2 separate regions of the Homo sapiens genome follow, and region 2 is linked to region 1. A link means that fine-mapping ties the variant in region 1 to the expression of a gene that starts in the linked region. Tissue or cell type: left ventricle. Region 1 holds a variant in brackets; the other region holds the start of a gene. All regions are shown on one strand. Distances are between the middles of the regions.

Region 1 (8,107 bases):
ATACGACACTGTGAAAAAGAACAGGTAAATATAAAAAAGTACAAATACACCTTCCAGAAAAGAAAAACAGCCATGGAAATAAGAAGTTTAATGGAACAATGGCACCCTGGACACAACTACAGAGACGTAAAATGAACTGGAGGCGGGCGCAGTGGCTCACGCCTGTAATCCCAGCACTTTGGGAGGCCAAGGCGGGCGGATCATGAGGTCAGCAGATCGAGACCATCCTGGCTAACACAGTGAAACCCCATCTCTACTAAAAATACAAAAAATTAGCCGGGCGCGGTGGCGGGCGCCTGTTGTCCCAGCTACTTGGGAGGCTGAGGCAGGAGAATGGCGTGAACCCGGGAGGCGGAGCTTGCAGTGAGCCGAGATCCAGCCACCGCACTCCAGCCTGGGCGACAGAGCGAGACTCTGTCTCAAAAAAAAAAAAAAAAAAAAAAAAAAAACCTGGAAGACAGGCCTGAGGAAATTACCCAAAATGTAGCAAGAAAAATATGAGCATTTGTATTTTTTATATGAGATATTTTACGATCAGATTGAACCTTACAATATTTTTCAGAAGATGAGGCAGTATACTGAATATCTGAGCCACTCTTATGTAAAATGTGGTACTATAACTGTACTGTGCAATATGGCAGCCTCTAGAGGCATATTGCTACTGAGCACTTAAAACTGTGGTTAACTGAGAAACTAAATTTTAAATTACATTTACTTTTAATTAATTTAAATTAAAATATACAGTCACATACCACATAATAACCTTTCGCTCAGTGACAGACCACCATATGATGGTGGTCCCCTAAGATTATAATGGAACTATGCAATGGAGTAGGCTATACCACCTAGGTTTGGTACATACGTTAACTCTATGATGTTCGGACAACAATGACATCACCTAATGACACATTTCTTAGAACGTATCCCCATTGTTAAGCAACACGTGACTGCACTTGATTTTGTTATTGGAAAACTTCTAAGTATGTTTGAAACAATTTGGGCATGTAAATCTACTTTGTATGAAAGATAAAATACTTTGATGAAAATGTAGTGTCTGAATTGAGATGTGCTGTAAGTGTAAAATATATACCAGATTTCAGACTCCATATGAAAAAAGTAAAATATTAATTTTTAAAATAATTGAGTACATCTTCAGATAAAATTTTGGATATGTTAAAATATATTATTAAGTCCCTTTTAAACCTGGCTATTAGAAAATTTAAAATCACATATATGACTGACATATATCTATTGGACAGAAGTATATTAAAACAAATAAAACATGGAGATCTGAGTTGCTCCCCCAGACCTAAAAAGCTGGAGGCTGGAGAGTGGGGAATGAAAGAAACTCATTTGATGACAGCTATTGCAGATGTAAGAAGCTGTAGAATCAAGAGTTTCACTTTCACTTACTGTCACTAAAAATAGTCACTCTAAGGGTGCTGGCTGCAAGTCTGTGACTTCTTTTAAGTTCCAGATAAAATTGCAATTAGGTTTAGAAAGTTGTTTCCACAATTATTAAAGTGACTATGAATATGGAACATGTACACATATACTATGTGCATACATTATACACACATATACATGCACATACACATGTGTACAGTGCATATTTTTGACCAGCTAAATTTCTCTTTGACTTTACATGTCCCACATAGTCTAGTTTCCCAAATGCCCAAGATAAATTTGGGACTCTACCTCAGTGCTTCTCATTTGGGGATCTTGCTAAAAGTGCTGACTTTGATTTGAAGATCTGAGTTGGGAACAAAAATTCTACATTAAAAAAAAGCTGGCCGGGTACGGTGGCTCATGCCTGTAATCCCAGCACTTTGGGAGGCTGAGGAGGGCAGATCACCTGAGGTCAGGAGTTCGAGACCAGCCTGACCAACATGGAGAAACCCCATCTCTACTAAAAATACAAAACTAGCTGGGCTGTGGTGGCGCATGCCTGTAATCCCAGCTACTCGGGAGGCTGAGGCAGGAGAATCGCTTGAACTCGGGAGGCAGAGGTTGTGGTGATCTGAGATCGCACCATTGCACTCCAGCCTGGGCAACAAGAGTGAAACTGTCTCAAAAAAAAAAAAAAAAAAAAAGCTTTCTAGTGATTATTTGTGTGTCTACATATATATATAAATATATATTTTTAATTTGAATCTTCAGTTAGTTCGTTCATTTTACTCAGTGATCAAAGAAACATTTCATAACCTGAATTTTGAGCCCAGTGCTGCAACAGACACTTTCCTCCCATTGGATCTTCTCTTCTTCTCAGGCCCTTCGTACTTGCCTTGTTTTTACTGTATTTCATCAATTATTTTATGATATACTAAGAAAAAATTAAATGCTGCCCATTAAACTAGGACATTCATTTATTTTAACTAGAGCCCTATTCAAAAATGTCAAAATGTGAAAAATATGCATCTGTGATGATACATGGAATCAGTTTCCCCAGGTCTCACTTTGAGACCCACATTTAATACTGCTGAAGGATACTGGGTGCCTGGATGCCACTTTATACCCCTTCCCATACCTGAATTCACAATGGCTCCCCCAAATAATTCCTACTTTTTTCTGAATTCTACATCTCAGTAAGCAACGCAACCCCTAGGTAATTCAGATGCAGAGGTTCTCAGTCCATACCCTGAGAAACAATGTTCTCCAAGAAAAGTCTCTATAATTGTTCCCAGTGTTGTGATATTTATGGTTACCATCTAAGGGTTTGCTATTTCAAAGTCAATGTTTTCTTACAGGTATTTTATAAATATACCAAGGATACCAGGCAGCCCCACAATGTAGCCTCAAGAACTACTTAGAAATGTGGCTGTGTAACACTACTCCCGTTTTTTAATCTTAAAATTTGTTCCTTGTTTAGGACAAAATATTTCCAGCTTGTGACTCAATATTTAAATATTCATTCCAGTAAATATTTCACTAAAGCATCACTTTTATCGTAACTTTTAGGAAGGAAATCTGTCCTGGATATGACAAAAAGGCTGCAATAAGGAAAAGGAGCCAGATGGTAACCACCTAAGTCCAGTAACAATGTGATCTTGAGACTTTTTATGCTGAAATATAACCCCACTCATTTATGTACTCTAAAATGTTGTGTAGTCATGACTTAGTGCCACCACTAAATGAATATGGAATGTGTTAATGTGCTCTGAGGGTACTGCCATGTATTTTATTATATAATTATAAACCCACTGATATACCTGAATAAACCACATCCACCTCTAAAGCATTATTTCTCTCCATATGACCCATTTAAAACTGCAAATGGCTTAATCTAGTGTCTCAATACACTTAAGACTCAAAAGGAGACTAAAGATGAACAAGATGAACATTTTGATAGCACTTTCTACAAAAAATGCTTTATTTAAAAATATGATCTTTTTAAAAAGGAGACTTTTATACACACTTACTTTAGAAACAGTCAAAAACACAACAGAATCAATCCAGATTTAGAAATGATGATTTGTAACATACAATATTGGTATGCTGAACAAGACAGTTTAAATGTATGATTCTTTTTGTCCCTTCACATTTCAATAATTCACATTTGTTAAAACTAGTGGTTGGGACTAAAGAAAAGGTCATATCTGAATCCTTTCCCCTTCAGAAATCTGTCACCCTTCTGGGCAGTTACAGAAATGGCAGCAGCTAGGCAATGTTTGTATTTCTTTGGGTGCCTCTGTGTCAAAAAATATATCTCCGCTTTTATTCTTTTTCTATGAAATTTATATTTATGTGGCTATAGGGCCTGGTCGTATGTCCCACGCCTTTTAAAATCTAAATTTCTAAAAACAGACACTCCGTAAGGGCAAGGAGCATACACTGCTATGACCTCACTGGACTCAGAGCTTAATGCTCTTAGGTTATCAGCAAGAGACATGATTTTGATCTTCCAGTTAGCACTCCAAGCTGCTATCAACCAACCTTTTTCAGCACGGTAGTGAAATATTTCAAACCATATTCAAACATCTAATATAGATTTATAATAAAACAGGAAAAATGGCTTGCCAAATTAAAGTGCTATGAGCTATTACATTCAAGAGGTTATCTTGATTTTATTTTTTGAGGTGGAGTCTCGCTCTGTCGCCCAGGCTGGAGTGCAGTGGCATGATCTCAGCTCACTGCAACCTCCACTCCTGGGTTCAAGCAATTCTCCCTGCCTCAGCCTTCTGAGTAGCTGGAATTACAGG[C/T]GCCAGCCACCAAGCCTGGCTAATTTTTGTGTTTTTAGTAGAGACGGGGTTTCACTATGTTGGCCAGGCTGGTCTTGAACTCCTGACCTCAGGTGATTCACCTGCCTCAGCCTCCCAAAGTGCTGGGATTACAGGCATGTGCCACCGCGTCCGGACTATCTTGATTTTATAATCTGATGTTTTCAAAAACTATTTTTCACCATGGCCACTGCTTCTCAAACTGGGGAACCCTAGCCATCTTCCAGGAGTGTCATTTTTTTTTTCAGACATAGAGGTTTAAAAATTTTTTAATCTTAAAAAGTTCTGTTGTATATATTCACAGGTAAAATAAGAATAATTTTAAAGATAAAACATATGACTTCAAAGAAATTACAAGTTGACATCTTGGACTCTACCCCTCGTACTTTATCTCCTATGAGGAGGATTTCAGTAATCACAGCTGCGAAGCAATGACCTAGGAGATCCTGATTTCTCAAAGCGTAGCCAGGTCTTTACTGACAGTGAATGTAAATACAATTCAAAGTCTTGGTGCATTCTCCTGAGCTCCATCTTCAGATATAATGTAATTCTCTGATTAAATATATATAGTCCTGTCTATACTGATCAGGAATTAAGTCAACAAAAGAACTCTGGACTGATTTTGATTTTTCACTGTTTATAATTAGAGGAATGCTACAGTTAAAGATTACTGCTTTACAACTAAAAATATACAACATATATCATCAAAGGGAGTGGAACTCATGAAGCCAAAAGATTAAAACTTGACCCAGTGAAAATAATAGGGAGAGTAACTGTGGGTGATTTTATCCTTCTTCCAAATTTACATTAAAATATATTATCCCTATTCTTTACTGCCCTTTTGGTTGAAGAGGTAAATACATGCATTTTTCTGAATAATTAATTATAACACCTCCTCTAGAATCCCAAATCCACTAGGGATTCTTTCTTGACCCCAAAGAGATGCTTTCAGTATGTCATGAGTATAAACTCAAACTGCTTGCCAATTATAACTACTTGTCAAATAGAAAGTCAATAGCCACTTTCTGTATAAATAACATTTATAAAAAACAAAATGAAGTTGCAAATGAAATTATGTCAAATTTACAGTTTCTTTTTTTAAACAAAGGGTCAATGTCATCAACATTATCTGTAAATCAAGTTATCATCAGATACATTTAATAATTAAATATAAATATGACAATGGATCAAAAATGATCCCAGCTAGTTTAAGGATTAATCTCATTAATCCCACAATTTAATGAGACCATCCCAACCACATGTTATGACCTTAGAAGTTTCATGAGGATGCCACACTGCACCTATACACACTTTATCATGAGCTTTAAATCGACTGTAGAGTTTTGTGGTCTTCCAGTCCCAAATGTTTAATTTTCCATTTCCATCTCCTGAAATCACATAACTATAATGGGAAGAAAGATAAATTCAAATTATTAAAATACCTTAAATTGGTAAGGCGAATGAGGAATAGGGACGTTATCTTTTCACGTTAACATTAAAAAAAAAATCCAATGCAAATATACAATACTCAGAATAAGATGGTAGAACATGAAGCAGTCTATAATTTGAAATTCTATTAAAAAAACCTCCCAACCAATCTAAGAGTAGAAAATTATTTTTAACTGGGAAGACTGGGAGTCCCAGGAGCCACAGTGAATGAGGTTACACAATCAGTCTCTAGATAGTCAGAAACAGAGACTGGAGAACCAATTCCACATATAGCTAGGGAACACCTTTAGATCTATTCTATCACAGTAGGCTCTAACACTTTCATAATTACTTTTTGGCTTTAATATCTTTTGAATACATCTAAGACTGAATCAGAGGTAGGCCCAATTACTAGGCTAAACAAACAAAGTTACTGGGATTTCTAAATTACTTCTGCCTATACATTTTAACTAAGAACCATGCTGTAGGCTTCACAAATCCAGTGTGACCTAGAAATATTCAAAAGCTGGATTTGAGGTTTCAGCACAGACAAGCTGTAGTGAAGCTGTAACTGCAACACTGTAATACACAATTAATTCTTCTGGTGTTCATTCAATCATAGCAATACAGTGATTATAGCACTTCTAGTCTTGCTTAGAAAAGCAGAGAAAATAAGGCATTGGTTATATAGACAGGGATTTATTAGGTGGCTAAAGGGCATAAGCCTAAGTAATAGAAGGGAATATACTGAAGCAAGAACCTAAAAAAAGCAAAATGTAATTTTCCTAATTTGTTCTTGCCTTTATATCCAGCATTTTGACAATTTTGACAGATCATCGAGTTCTCATAAAAACATATTATGTGAGAGTGATGTGTCAAGTGTTATTTGTACAACAACAGTTTATATAATCATATTTGAATACGAGAATGGATTAGAAGATTTAAACTTACCTCATGTCTGGTGAAAAGTCCACCTGACAAGCATAGCCTGCTACCATATGGCCCTTAAAAATTTTTTTCTTATTTAATCTAAATCTGTTCTGTGCTCCAAAAATTAAGATTTGGTTGTCCATTGATTGGCATGCTAGCCATTTTCCTGTAAATTCAATAAATGAGGTATTTTAGAGGAAGACTAAAACAATTTTTAAAACTTTTTATTTTAAATATGTTCACTGTGATTAATATAAGTTTTGCTCCCAAATACTTTATAATACTAAAAAATAAATTTACTATACCACCTGTAAAATGTTATAAATATGTCACTGGCAAGAGGTATTAATATATAAACTAATGGCTTTTGCATATACGATCCTATATCATTGAGCACTCTCATATAAAAGTTTTTAAAAAAATAAGGAAATATAGAAATTCCAAGCTTAATGTTAAAGAAATAAGCTAAAAGTTGTGAAATGAAATTAATTTATAGTAAGTATAGACAACAGAACTATGGGAAATAGGAGAAAGAGACTTATCTGTGGTAATTACAGAATAAAGAAAGATTAAGGGGTGAGAAAGCCTAGGGTTATTAAATAAAACTATACAAAAAAAGATATATTAAAAATTATAGTAACTTTTTAAAAGGCTACAATGCTTTTCTCTACTTAGGATTCATCAAAGCCCCTAGAGCCTAAACTGCAGCGTCTATAGTCATGCACCACTTAACAATGTTTTGGTCAATGATGGACCGCACGTATGACAGTGGTCCCATAAGATTATAGTGCTAAATTTTAACTGTACCTTTTCTATGCTGAGATTTTACTGTACCTTTTCTATGTTTAGATACACAAATGCTTACCACTGACTACATTATTCAGAACAGCAACATGCCATACAGGGGTAAAGCCTAGGAGCAACAGGCTATACCATACAGCCTAGGGTAAGTAGACTATACCATCTAGGTTTGTGTAAGTACTCTGTGTGATGTTCACAAAATGACAAAATCACCTAACACTGCATTTCTCAGAAGTACCCTTGTTGTTAGGAATGCATGACTATACTTGCATCCTATATATAGTCATCCCTTGGTATCTGTTGGGAATTGGTTCCAGGATCTGCACCCCTACCCAATACCAAAATTCACAGATGCTCAAGTCCCTTATATAAAATGGCATAGTATTTGCATATAACCTACATATCTCCTGTATACATTAAATCACCTCTCGATTACTTATAATGCCTAATGCAACGTAAATGCTTTGTACCTAGTTGTTATGCTGTGTTGTTTTTAATTGTTGTATTGTTATTTTTTATTGTTTATTTTGTTGAATATTCTGGATTCGTGCTGGTTGAATCCCAGGATATGGTGCTCATGGATACAAAGGGCCAACTGTACATGTAAACATTACTTACTAAGGAAACAGACTTAAATAATGCCTGAGTGGGTAAATGGCCTTGTTCAAGATGGGCACAAAATCTGTAATAGGTGGTTTAAAAATACGCTACATGAAATATAGATGCACAGT
Region 2 (8,107 bases), 130 kb before region 1:
TTTGATCACTTTAATTCAGACTGGGTGATATGGTTTGGATGTTTGTCTCCTCCAAATCTCATGTTGAAATGTGACTTCCAGTGTTGGAGGTGGGGCCTAGCGGGAGATATTGGATCATGGGGGTGGATCCCTCACGAATGGCTTAGCACTATCCCCCCTTTGTGATAAGCGAGTTCTTGCTCTATTAGTTCATGGGCGATCTGATTGTTTAAAAGAGGCTGGCAGCTCCTTCCTTTCTCTCTTGCTCCCATTCTCACCATGTGATGCACTGGCTCACCCTTTGCCTTCTGCCATGACTGTAAACTTCCTGAGGCCTCACCAAAAGCAGATGCTGGCACTATGCTTCATGTACAGCATGCAGAACCAAGAGCCAATTAAACCTCTTTTTGTTATACATTACTTAGCCTCAGGTATTTCTTTATAGTGACACAAAAAAGGACTAACACACTGGGTATGTCACATTGTGAGATATAAATAACCACTTGATGAAGGTGAGGATACTATCGGCTCTGTTTTCTCTTTGGACAGTCTATAATTTAAAATGACCACATTGGCATCTATAGTTACAGCAGGTTTTCTCAACTTAGGCTCTCCTGACATTCTGGGCTGGACAAGTCTTTGTTGTGGAAGGCTATCTTTTGCACTGGAGGAGGCTTAGCTGCATCCCTAGTCTAATAGGTAGCCATTAGACGCCAGTAGCATCCTCCAGTGGTAACAACCAAAAACATCTTCAGACATTGCCAAATGTCCCCTGGGAGGCAAAACCAACCCTGGTTGAGAATCACAGCACTACAGCAGGTGTCCAAGTTGAAATGCATGTTGTTTAGGAGATTAGAAATGTTCTGTTTCACACATTTTTCTGGCTAAAACCTCTAGGAGGATGTAATCTGTGATCTGATGAAAGCCGCTATTGTGGTTTACTGACCTGCTTGTTTAATTAACCAGCCTATGACACAGCGGTTAATGATTATCTGCATTTTTGAGACACATCCAGAAAGGACTGAGACAAGTTCAACTCTATAAGAAAAGCAAAGGTCGTGAATGAAAGATTGCTTGTCAGCTACAACAGTGATCCATTAGATTTGCCTCTTCAGCCCACAGACTGACCCATTTTACTATTCATTATCATCCACCACACAGGAAAACACTGTGTGGAAGTTAAAAATAGGTTTCTTCCAGAAAATTGATGCTACATACATATAAACGGTTCTTTTTTATTAGTAATAAACACATAGACATAAACACAACTGCAAAAGATAAAAGGCTATTTAAATATTCCATGTAATTTGAATTTTTTTCCATAATGAAAACATTTTATTAGAGAACTGTAGAAATGAGATAAAGGAAAATATGAGGTCATCCTGCCCATTCTCTTCAAGAGCTACACTGTTTTGTATGCACCCCCACTCCATCCTCCACCCCCAGCCCAGAGTCTTATTAAATATCCCCATTTTAATAATATAGGAGAGTGCTTATGCTTCCCCACCCACCCCCAGAGAGAAACTCAACAGAGGAGCAGAGGGTACGCACTAGTGGCACCATGATCTTCAAAATATGACTTCTCTAGTTAGCGGCACTGTGTTGACTGCATAGAAAATAAAACTTCCAGCAAAGTCTACATCAGACATTACCAATCCAGGTTTATCAAGCACCCTACAAACTCTGTCTTAAAGAGCCTTATACAACTTAACAGAGTTCGTTTCTTGATGATTAATTGTTATTTTCTTGAAATTATTGGGTACTCTGAATTCCAGAGAATGCTGTATAAATTATTTGTAAATTTCCTTATACTTTATCTTTGCCCACTTTGGAATCAATGCTTACCTTTTGTTTTTCATGACAACATCCAGGATTTTCTTCCATGGTAAATAACAAAATAATTACTATTGAGACCCTTCTGTGAGCCAGTATTATTTGGGCATGAAACATATAATATTTTATGCAACATTTATAATCCTGCCATATATATAGATCTGTTTATTCATGGGAAAACGGAAACTCAGAGAGGTCCAGTACTTCGTTGAAAGTCTCATAGTGCTTGAACGGCAGGGTCCTGGTTCAAACACAGTTCAAGTAAATAGTCACAGGATGTGAGGCTGGCTCTCAGTTTGTGTAAGGAAAAACTCGTACTTGTTTAAATTTGTTAAAATAGAACCCATCTGCAATATCCCCTGGACTCATCTAAGAAAAAAGCAAAAGTCAATCCTAATGGAACGTTCAGGAGCCTGAGGATCTGGTGTGGCCAGGGGGTGGACTAGACTGGGTGGAGATATTTTGTTACATGTAGAGAAACAGCCCAAGTGCTTTGTTCACTAGCAGGGAATAAATTGGGTCTTTCTTAAGCCAGGAAGAGAAGAGGATTTTAGAGACGAGGGCTTCCTACGGAAAATACCCAACATTCAAAAGGGCAGGGGGGTAGGGCCCCATATTTGTTCTCTCTTGTCCATGCTGTAGGCTGTTACGGGGGAAGAGGATAGGTCTACAGGCGCAGTCTCCCATGGAAGCATGGAAAATGCAAGAGTAAAGCAAGGAAAAAAAGAAAAGTGACTACAGCTTAAAAAAATCTAAACCCAAACTCAAACCTAAAACCCAAACCCACCCCAAATGGGTTGTGGGAAAGGATTCTACTAACAATTGAAAATGGAACATCCACCACTGGACTTCAGGCTGTGAGAGTTCAGTCTGATTAATTAAGGTCAAGGTGGTGATGGAAATACCAGCTGGGGAGCATTTTGCCGAAAGATAAATTTGTCCCTCTGTATTTCTGCGAGACAGCAGGGAGGTGTGTGTTTGGAGCTAAATTAATTTGATTTACATCATGCCATGGTAACTTCTGTTCTCTCTCCCCCCTCCTCACCAACCCGCTGTCAGATGTCTTAGCTGGCTTTTTCCCTCTTCTTCTTCACCCCCACACATTTCATAACACGGAAAGAAAGCACGAATTGGCTTCAGGCAGAATTTAGACATAGAATAACTCTAATTTGATTATTCTGCATTGAGTGCTATTCTCTTCGCCCCCCAATCCCTTTCTTTCTTGAGAGAGAGAGAGAAGTTGTAAGCCCGGGCATAAGTGCTATTTATTTTTATATTGTGCTTAATGGTGCAAACTGCTTGACTGTTCCTTGTATGCTCACCTACCCTCCTCCTGTGTTTCTCCAACAACACTAATACCAGAAAATGAAGTTATGGCCCGGGATCCCGTTAGGAATGCGCTTTTTCTGGCCCTATGTCTTTCAGCTCCGTCAGGCTTTGGAGGCCGGGGCGGAGGGCACCTCTTGAGGGACCCTGTACAGCCGGGCCCTGGCACCTCCGGAGGGGCGGAGAGGGCCCCCTGTGACCGCGTTCGGCCCACCACCGTTCCAGCGGCGGGGCGCGCTCGGCAGGGCAGGATAAGGTTACGCCGGGGCTTCCTCGGTCGGGAGGGAGGGAGGCGGGTCCGAGCCCGCACCCCGGCCCGCGGGGGAGTTCCCACAGTTGGCCGCTCCGGCCTGTGGGGCTACATCCCTGCTGCCGGCCAGGCGCGGCCCGCGGGACCCCGAGTGTAGCGCCATGGCCCGGGAGAGGCCGCCCGGGAGGGGCTGCGGCGTCCTGCGCCGGTGTCTACTCGGGGCTGTGCTGTTGTTCGGCCTGCGGCTCTGCGCAGAGCTGCGGCGCGCCGGGCCCGGGTCCCCCACCCGCAGCGCCCCGCCGGGCCCGGCCTGGCGGCCACCTGGGCCGCACCTGCCGCCCGCGCCGGGCCAGCCGCGCGGCGCCAGCAGGAGGCAGGTGACCTACGTGCGCAGCGGTCGCCGGGCGCCGCCGGGGGGCGGCGGGAGCGGGACGCCGGAGCCTGGCTGCTGTGCCCCGCGCGGGCGCCCCCGCCGGAAGGTCAGTTGCAAAGCGGTCGGTCTTGGGCCTGGGACCAGAAGCCCCCTCCCGACCGCGCTACGGAGCCCGGCGCTCAGGTCCCGCAGGCCGCCTCGATGGGACCTCCGGAGGCTTCCGCTTCTTCTCTTCCCCCTGTGCTCTCTTAGGCGGCTCCACGGGTCGCATCTTTCAGTGCCCAGATAGACTGAAGTGCGGCCAAGCGGAGTTCATTCACTATTCAGCCAGTACTTGGGGGTCGCCGTGGCCGGGCGCCCTTCTAGGCTCCGCGCATCCCGTGAAGAAGGACGGAGCCCTGTTCTCACGGAGGATACACTTTAGTAGGGGAGTGTTTGCGTGATAGGCAGGGAAAGGGAAAGGGAAAGGAAGGCGTTGTGGCTGCCATTGATGTGCTGTGCTGCTCCCAGCCTTCTGCTTAAGGCCTGGACAGAGTTGGGTGGGTATCGCCGTGAATGGCCTGTCCACGCCACTGCCTTCATCTCGCTGAAGATCCACCAGCTGGCCGAATTTCCCTGGAGTCTCATTCCAGGCGTTGGCTGGGGGCTGGGAGGCTGGCGCCAGTTGAGAAGCCGAGCACCCAGCCCCACTTAATGAGAAGTTAATTGGATCCTCGAGGACCCAAGTAATAACCTGGGTTTGTCTTATAACTCTCGACCGTGTTGTGCCTCCTACCTCATTAACTTCTTGGCTTACACCTCACTGATTAGTCCATTTTTAGCCTCTGATTGTTAAGGTTTTGGGCTCATCTCCTTTTTGGAGCTCGGTAATTTGCGTCGTACATGGAAATGAAAAGAACTACAGGTATGAGCTCTCCTCATCCTTTTACCCATCAACTCCTGCTTCCAGCCTCAACCACGTTCTCCAAAGCAACTACTTTCCGTTGCCCGGCTGTTCCTCGTTTCTTTTAGACATCCACCCCAACCTCCACCCCGCTTCCCATCACCGGTCCTGGAGGGGAGGGAACAACTCTTCCTTTGCCTCGCTGCTGTCTTCGGCTGCCCAGTGCTAGCCTACTTTTCAGCACCACAACCCAGCACTCCTGCCGGGCTTCACTTCCTCGCTTCCTTCGGGCCTCGCCCTCCGTTTTTCCACACCACTGCTGTTCCTTGCTGGGCCATCGTGCTAACTTCCTGGATAAACTGAAATACCTTTTTCTATCTCGCAAACCTCACCTCCTGTGTAAAGTCTTGATTAGATCTTCCAGAAGAAAGCAGCCACTTCCTCTCCAAGTTCCTAATTCACTGTCCGTGATACCATGTTAAACATTCAGCACAGTTTTGCCAAGGGCTTACCAGGTAGGCATCTGGTGCTGGAGGCACAAAACGAGTTCAGATTCTCGTGGGGGAGGCTCTTAGCACAGGCATCCGGTGATTTCCAATCCTGTAATTGAGGCCTTCAGCTCTGCCTGGGGAGTCAAGAAAGGCTGCTCAAGGCGGGGGACATATTTGAGTTACAATGTGATGTTTCTTTCTTTTCTTTTTCTTTTCTTTTCTTTTCTTTTTCTTTTTTTTATTTGAGCCGGAGTCTTGCTGTGTCGCCCAGGCTGGAGTACAGTGGCTTGATCTTGGCTCACTGCCACTTCCGTCTCCCGGGTTCAAGCGATTCTTCTGGCTCAGCCTACCGAGTAGCTGGGATTACAGGCGTGCACCACCACGCTGGGCTAATTTTTGTATTTTTAATAGAGATGGGTTTCACCATGTTGGCCAGGCTGGTATCGAACTCCTGACCTCAAGTGACCCACCCGCCTCAATCCCCCAAAGTGCTGGAATTACAGGCGTGAGCCACTGCGCCTGGCCAACACTGTGATGTTTCTTAAGAGTGGGGCTTCTTTTATTCCCCTCTGGATGTCCTCAATGTTCCATCCTTGACACCCTCAACCCCTCCCTGCAGTTTTCCTTTTAGATTCACTCAGCATCTGTTGTTTCTGCTGTCATCTGTCAAGTAATTACTCTTAACTCTTTGTCTGTACCTCAAACGACAGTACTGATGGCTGGAGCCTGTCCTACAAAGGACAGGTTTGGAATGCATAGACTCAGTGGGGCGCTGGAGGGGAGGTTCACACTCATCCCTGCTAGGAGCTAGGAGGCTGCCACAGTGATTCAGGCTGGAGATGGGGGTGGCTTGCTGTGGTAGGTGTGGAGGTGGTGAGAAGTGGTTGGTTTCTGGATGTGTTTGGAAGGTGGATGAGGAGGAGCAGTTATTTCTCTCTTGTTTGTTTTGTTTGGGGGATAGATGGAAAGCAGGAATTCAGTTTAAGATATCCTTCAGGCATGCATGTGAAAATGTCAAATAGGCAACCGGACGTGTGAGTCCAGAGCTTGGAGGAGATGTCCAGGCTGAAGGTGGTGATTTGAGAATCATCCAAGTACAAATGGCAGTAAAACTGAGAGATCGTATGTGGTCATCTAGGAAGTGAGTGTGGCTAACAAAGAGAAGCAATCCGAGCCTGTGGCCTGGGGCTCAGTTTTATTACAATTAAATTAGGGAAAAAAGTAAAGGAAATGTTTAGCTTTGTGCCTGGCATGTTTAGCTCTCAATAATGGTAGCTTTACTTTCTACAGTAGGCCCCAGGTTTTTAGCCTCAGCCAGTCTCCAAACGTCATTCACTGTAACCTACAAAGGTGGCTTATGCTCACTCCTCTACCTGCAAGGCCCCATCCCCCTTTCTTATGACTCCTGCCCTTTTCACCCTTGGACATTCCTCAGGTCAAGGTTCATAGCCCAGAAACCTTCCCATAGCAACCCTGCTTCATGCTGACCCCTCCCCCACTTGGAATGACAACAGAAAGAGTCTGATTTGTGCATTGCTTTGTACAAGTTGAGGCCTGATAATCCATTTCGGATGGAATGTTTTGTCTCCACAGTTGTTCTTGATGGGAAGGATTGTATTTCCCATAGTGACCCCTAGTAAATGTTTACTCCTGAGACCCCAGTATGTGAAAGTATAAGAATCTTACTATTTCAGCCTATTCAGTAACTGTAAATGTCTTTGGTTAAAAATTTATAAGAAATAAATGGGCCTTTTGCTATTTCTAAAATATTAAGTTTTTAGTCTCCTAAGGTAAACATTTTCTTAGATTTCCTTCTCGCTAGCTATTATTTTCGGGATATACATCTAACCTTCCCAAATCCCTAGATAGTGTTGATCTTGAATTTGTTTTATTCTCCCATTATTTCACAGTTGAATTAAAATATTCCTTAAAACTATAGAAAGATCAGTTATCTAATCCATCCTCCCACTTCTGGGAACAAAGCTCAATAACCCCATATCTCTCTAGGGACAAGTCTTGTTTCTTTTCTGCCTCACATCAAGACAGCACTGTAATGTAAGCTGAATGTACCATTAAGTAATTGAAATAAAATTAGGAAGCTATTTGTTAAACTCCTTGGATCACAGTGTATTTAGATTTTGTTTGTTGAGAATACTGATCAACAATATTCTTAGGTTCTTGGTTACTTTGCCCCAGGCACCTCCCAGATTGATAAAGGAGAAAAAGTTCCATTCTATTTTGAGGACAGCTTTCTGGGTAGATGAAAACCTGCATGAAATAATTGGGTTGCCAAGTATTTCTTGTTACTCTGCTTCCATTCCAGGTGTTAGAGGCACCAAAATTCTGCCACTTTAATCACAGCTTATGCTCCTCTTAAAGAAAACAATCTGCTATAAAAAAGAGTAGTGAAGTGTAGTCCTCATATAATTCTTTCTTTCCTCGTCCCCTTCTTCATGGAGCCATGCAAGAACTAGCTCTAAATATTTTCAGATCTTTCGACATCAGGGGTTCTAATCTTCAAGCTTTGCAAAATGAGAGCCAATGATAGATGATGGATAAATACTGCCCTTTTTGATTATGCCCACCCTGGAACCTATATATTCTTGTGTATTACAGATTCTTTAAGCATTCTGTCGGGACTCTTCATCTCCAAATTTCGCATACTATGCATGCATAAAAATACCACTGTGATTCTTTTATTTTCTCTCTGTTTTCTATCTGCATGTGTTTCTGTTTGGGTTTTTTTTCTTTCTTAAATGAAACAGACCTTTACTATGATTACAGATAAAGTTCTTTTTGAAGGGATTTATAGAGGACTAGATATGGTCTTCATGATTTATGCTTTTTAATGCAGCTCTTGGGTGGATGTTTTATCTCTTATAGGTTGGCAATCCACCTAAAAGACAGATGCAACATACAGGGCCCATTTGCAAAAGAGAGACACTCACTCAGTGGCCAAGCTTCCCGAAAAA

Evidence for each region. PIP is the estimated chance that this variant, and not a neighbour inherited with it, causes the effect.
Region 2: METTL24 starts here. The variant in region 1 is the best candidate, but not a certain one, in a credible set for the expression of METTL24 in left ventricle (GTEx, PIP 0.81).

The regions. Positions count from the first base shown.
Region 1 is chr6:110,227,466-110,235,572 of GRCh38, reverse strand. It overlaps CDC40 (cell division cycle 40), which reads right to left. Exons shown (of 15, transcript NM_015891.3): 14 at 6,597-6,741; 15 at 3,341-5,619. The coding sequence ends at 5,442. Among named protein-coding and RNA genes, the nearest start is that of CDC40, 51 kb to the right of the region's middle. The variant C/T (reference allele first, on the strand shown) is at 4,200.
Region 2 is chr6:110,353,715-110,361,821 of GRCh38, reverse strand. METTL24 (methyltransferase like 24) reads left to right here and starts at 3,473. Exons shown (of 5, transcript NM_001123364.3): 1 at 3,473-3,867. The coding sequence starts at 3,550. RefSeq lists an enhancer at 842-1,136.